2 separate regions of the Homo sapiens genome follow, and region 2 is linked to region 1. The links come from fine-mapping of genetic effects on gene expression. Tissue or cell type: whole blood. Region 1 holds a variant in brackets; the other region holds the start of a gene. All regions are shown on one strand. Distances are from middle to middle.

Region 1 (2,752 bases):
TCCATCTCAAAAAAAAAAAAAAAAACAATTTTTGCCAGGTGCAGTGGCTTACATTGTAATCCCAGCACTTTGGGAGGCCAAGACAGGTGGATCACCTGAGGTCAGGAGTTCAAGACCAGCCTGGCCAAGATGATGAAACCCTGTCTCTACTAAAAATACAAAAAATTAGCTGAGCATGGTGGTGTGCGCCTGTAGTCCCAGCTACTCAGGAAGCGGAGGCAGGAGAATCGCTTGAACCTGGGAGGCGGAGGTTGCAGTGTGCCGAGATTGCACCAGTACACTCAAGTCTGCGTGACAAAGCGAGACTCCGTCTCAAAAAAAAAAAAAAAATTGTCAGTTCTTCTAAATGGATGTATGTAGTTACAATGGAATTCCTATCAAAATCTCAGCAATATTTTTTGTAGATGATGGTTCTAAAATTTATGCGAATGTAAAGGAACTAGAATAGTTGAAAGTTTTGAAAAAGAACAAGGTGAATAGAATGAGCTTATCTTTTTCAAGGGTTATATGACATCAGGACTGTGGTGTCGGTGGAGGGATAGACAGATCAGTGGAGCAGGACACAGAACCCAGAAATAGACCCACAAAAGTCTGGCAAACTGACTTTTGCAAAGGTGCAAAAGAAATTCAGTGGAGAGGCCGGGCGTGGTGGCTCACGCCTGTAATCCCAGCACTTTTGGAGGCCAACACAGGCAGATCACGGGGTCAGGAGATCGAGACCATCATGGCTAACACAGTGAAACCCCGTCTCTACTAAAAATACAACAAATTAGCTGGGCATGGTGGCGGGTGCCTGTAGTCCCAGCTACTCAGGAGGCTGAGGCAGGAGAATGGCGTGAACCCGGGAGGTGGAGCTTGCAGTGAGCTGAGATCGCGCCACCGCACTCCAGCCTGGGTGATGAGTGAGACTCTGTCTCAAAAAAAAAAAAAAAAAAAAAAAAAAATTCAGTGGAGAAGGATGGTATTTTCAACAAATGTGCTAGATTGGCTGGAGCAAAATCCAAGAGCAAAAATGCAAGCCTCAACCTAAGTCTCACATCTTATAGAAAAATTAACTCAAAATGGATCACAGGCTTAAATGTAAAGTGTAAAATATAAAACTTGCAGAAAATTGTTGGCATCTAGGGCTAGGCAGAGTTTATAGACTGGACAGCAGAATCACAATCCATAACAGGAAAAATGGACAAATTGGGCTTCATCAAAATTAAAAACTTGTGGCTAGGCATGGTGGCTCATGCCTGTAATCCCAGCACTTTGGGAGGCTGAGGTAGGAGGATGGCTTGAG[G/A]CCATGAGTTTGAGATCAGCCCTGGCAACATGGCAAGATCCCATCTCTACAAAAAAATTTTTAAAAATTAGCTGGACCAGGTGCGGTGGCTCACGCCTGTAATCCCAGCACTTTGGGAGGCCAAGGTGGGCAGATCACCTGAGGTTGGGAGTTTGAGACCAGTTTGACCAACATGAAGAAACCCCGTCTCTACTGAAAATACAAAATTAGCTAGGCATGGTGGCGCATGCTTGTAATCCCAGCTACTGGGAAGGCTGAGGCAGGAGAATTGCTTGAACCCGGGAGTTGGAGGTTGCAGTGAGCCAAGATCGTGCCATTGCACTCCAGCCGGGACAAGAAGACCGAAACTCCGTCTAAAAAAATAAAAATAAAATTAGCCTGGTTGGGCACAGTGGCTCATGCCTGTAATCCTAGGACTTTGGGAGGCTGAGGCGGGCGGATCACCTGAGGTCAGGAGTTTGAGACCAGCCTGACCAACATGGAGAAACCCCGTCTGTATGCAAAATTAGCCGGGTGTGGTGGTGCATGCCTGTAATCCTAGCTACTCAAGAGGATGAGGCAGGAGAATCGCTTGAACCTGGGAGGTGGAGGTTGTGGTGAGCCGAGATCGCGCCATTCTACTCCAGCCTGGGCAACAAGAGTGAAAGTCCGTCTCAAAAATAAATAAATAAATAAATAAAAATTAGCTGGGCATGGTGGCACAGACCTGTAGTCCCAGCTACTCCGGAGGCTGAGGTGGGAGGATCCCTTAAGCTCAGGAGTTTGAGGCTGCAGTGAACTACGATCACACCAGTGCATCCCATCCTGGGTGACAGAGTGAGACCCTGTCTCAAAAAATAAATAAATAAAAACTTTGGTTCTGCCAAATACCGTTAAAAGAATGAAAAGGTCCGGACGCGGTGGCTCACACCTGTAATCCCAGCACTTTGGGAGGCCAAGGCGGGCGGATCACGAGGTCAGGAGATCGAGACCATCCTGGCTAACACGGTGAAACCCCGTCTCTACTAAAAAAATACAAAAATTAGCCAGGTGTGGTGGCGAGCGCCTGTCGTCCCAGCTACTCCAGAGGCTGAGGCAGGAGAATGGCGTGAACCCGGGAGGCGGAGCTTGCAGTGAGCTGAGATCGCACCACTGTACTCCAGCCTGGGCGACAGAGCGAGACTCTGTATCAAAAAAAAAAAAAAAAAAAAAAAGACAAATCCACAATTACATTCGGAGATTTCAACACTGCTCCCTCAGTAATTGATAGAACAAGTAGATTAAAAAAACTATAAGGAAATAGGTGTGAGCCACCTTGCCTTTAATTTTTTTAAATTGTGAAAGATACATGAGGTATACAGAAGAGTATAGAAAATAACATAAAGCCTCTGCACACATAACCACTTTTGTGAAATCTTTGCCAAGATGGCTTCCAGATCCTTTTTGTTAATTCCTGATCCTTTTGTTAGTTTTTTTTTTTTTTTTTTG
Region 2 (2,752 bases), 33 kb before region 1:
TGGTCTCCCCACAGGCCTCTGCGTGTGACGTGAGGCAGGACCGGGCAGTAGAGGGCAGAAAAGCAGGACAGCGGCTCTGGTCTGCTCTCTCCCACCGGGCTAGGCAGCGGGACAAGACCAGGCTGAGAGGGTGAAGGCCCAGAGGAGGAGCTGGGAGACGATGCGCAAACAAGGGAAGCCCAGAGCTGAGCAACAGGTGCCAAGGAACTTCCACATCAGAGCCTCCAGTCAGTCCCAGGTTCCAGGGCTGCCCAGGTCCTCACGCCGGTCACCCACACACTTGCCACCCTTTCTGTCTACAGCGTTCCCAGTCTAGGGAATGACGTAGGGAAAAAGGCTGCCAGAGAGAACCGAGTGTCGACCAGGGCAGGAACCCCACAGGCACCTGGTGGTGGAGGGGGACCTGGGGAGGCTTTGATTTGAAGAAGAGCAAAGTTGGGGAGGGTCCTGGAGAAGAGAGAGGGGGCAGCCCCGGCAGGTCGGTGCTGCAGCTTGAGAAGCCCACTGTGGTGCTGTGTGTGGGTGGGGAGGTTAAGAGCAGAAGGGAAGCAGGGAAACCACAGGCTTCTGGAGCCCAAGGAGTAGATGCCAGACCAGACCCGGGCCTGGCCACTGGCACATATGGGACTTACGGACGACGCTTAGGTTTTCGCCCTGAATAACTGGGTACAGGGCAGGGGAAGGGGTGCTGGATCGCTGGGGGACCCGCAAGCCTCGAACTCAGGGAGAAAGTGACTCGGAGGAAGCCTTCTGGCGGCCTGGAGGAGCTCGGGAGAGCAGCAGACCCAGCCTTAGTCAGGAGGGGCCTTTACTGACTATGGAGGCCCGGGAGGGGCTCTGGGCAGAGAAGGGACCGGCCCCAGGCTGGTGCTTTGGTGCTACTCTGGTGCACAAGAGGGATGCGGTGCGGGGGGAAGGTGGAGCGGCGCAGCAGGTGCGGGGAAGCGGTAGGGGCCCAGGTGTCCGCCGCAGGCGGCCTAGATGGAGTTGGCCCCAGGACGGAGGCCGGAAGGGACCAAAGAACAACAGGAGGGTCCGCGTGCTGGGAGCCAACAAAGAGCCAAGGTGGGCGACCGAGAGACAGGAGAGGGTCGAGGAGAGCAAAGCACCTCGGGGCGCCCGCTCCGCCGTCGGTCTTGGCCCAGCTCTAGCCGCCCCTGGCCACCATCCAGGGGGCCCAGCCCGGCGGTCGGTCTAGGGCCGGGTCCCATGACAGGGCGCGGTACAGGTTCTGGCGGCGGCCCCAGGAGGAGCCGTGGGGGACGCTTCCCGGGGAAAGCGGCGGCCGGGGCGGGAGGGCGAGGGCCGAGGGCGGGGCGGGGCGGGACGGCCTCGCGCCCCCAGGACCCCAGCCTCCCCGCGCCGTGTAGCCGCTCTCCTACCTGCCCGCCCGCCCGTTGCCGGGCTCTGAGCCCGCGCCGCCGCCGCCAGGAAGGAGGGGTCCGCGTCTGCTCCACGCCGGGGGCCAAGCCTAGCTGCTACCGCCGTCGCGCTTCTAGCCCTTGATGGCCGCCGGCGCGCCGGAGTTTCAAACGCCGACGGTTGCCTTCGCGCGGCCAATCAGCGCGCGGCCGGGGGCAGGACCGCAGGAGGGCGGGCGTCCAATGGGAAGCTGTGCCTCGCCGGCTCCGCCCTCCCTCCCCCCCCACCCCCCGCTCGGGCGCCGACGGTTCCGTTTCCGGAGTGGAGGGCACGCCAGGGTGTCTGAAGCTGAGACCCCGGGCTCGCAGTCGCCCCATGAATTTCGAGTTCCGCAACTGACGCTACTGGGCGGGGCTTCATGGCCAGGGCCTCGCTCAGGCCTAAGTTTCCCCACCTGTGCTCAATGCACAGGTGCGGTGCCGCCTCCAGGGCCGGCCGAGAAGAGAGGCCGCACCCGCACGGGGACTGCATCTCCCAGAGCGCCCCGCGAGCGGCCGAGCGGCGGGACTCCATGCCCTAGAGTGCCCCGCGGGCGGCCGGGCGGCGGGACTCCATGTCCTAGAGTGCCCCGCGGGCGGCCGGGCGGCGGGACTCCATGTCCTAGAGTGCCCCGCGGGCGGCCGGGCGGCGGGACTCCATGTCCTAGAGTGCCCCGCGGGCGGCCGGGCGGCGGCCGCCGCAACCGACAGGTCCGGGACTGGGCGCTGCGGCCTCGTCCGCGCGCCGGGGCGGGGGCCTAGCTCGACAGCTTCCCGGCGGCTGCGCGATGGACAGCCCCGAGGTGACCTTCACTCTCGCCTATCTGGTGTTCGCCGTGTGCTTCGTGTTCACGCCCAACGAGTTCCACGCGGCGGGGCTCACGGTGCAGAACCTGCTGTCGGGCTGGCTGGGCAGCGAGGACGCCGCCTTCGTGCCCTTCCACTTGCGCCGCACGGCCGCCACGCTGTTGTGCCACTCGCTGCTGCCGCTCGGTGAGGCTGCTCGGGCCGGCCGGCCGCATCCTCTCCTGCGCAGGGCTTGCTGGGAGGTCAGGAGGAGGCCTCCGCCAGCTCCCCGAGGCCCCGAAAGCGCCTGGGCGCAGCTGGGGAGAGGCGCCGGTCCTCATCCAGAGGGACCGCGGCGTGGGCTGAGCGCGCTTAGGGGCGCCGCCGGCACTGACTTGCAGGTGACGGGAACCCAAGTTCAGAACCTTGGGCAAGGGATGCTCCGGCCCACCAAGTCCTGAACCGTCACGTGCCTGGGGGTTGCAAGGCCAAGCAGCCCTTGCTTGTCGTGGTTGGGGGCAGTGGCCAGGAGAAGGCAACTGTTGATTGAGTCCAACGGAAGGGGT

The links. PIP is the estimated chance that this variant, and not a neighbour inherited with it, causes the effect.
Region 2: TMEM129 starts here. The variant in region 1 is fine-mapped to the expression of TMEM129 in whole blood (TOPMed, PIP 0.99).

Annotation. Positions count from the first base shown.
Region 1 is chr4:1,687,532-1,690,283 of GRCh38, reverse strand. No RefSeq gene overlaps it. Among named protein-coding and RNA genes, the nearest start is that of FAM53A, 4.6 kb to the right of the region's middle. The variant G/A (reference allele first, on the strand shown) is at 1,286.
Region 2 is chr4:1,720,274-1,723,025 of GRCh38, reverse strand. TMEM129 (transmembrane protein 129, E3 ubiquitin ligase) reads left to right here and starts at 1,703. Exons shown (of 4, transcript NM_001127266.2): 1 at 1,703-2,393. The coding sequence starts at 2,189. TACC3 (transforming acidic coiled-coil containing protein 3) reads right to left here and starts at 1,505. Exons shown (of 16, transcript NM_006342.3): 1 at 1,383-1,505. RefSeq lists an enhancer at 675-1,670 and silencers at 1,293-2,102, 2,113-2,162.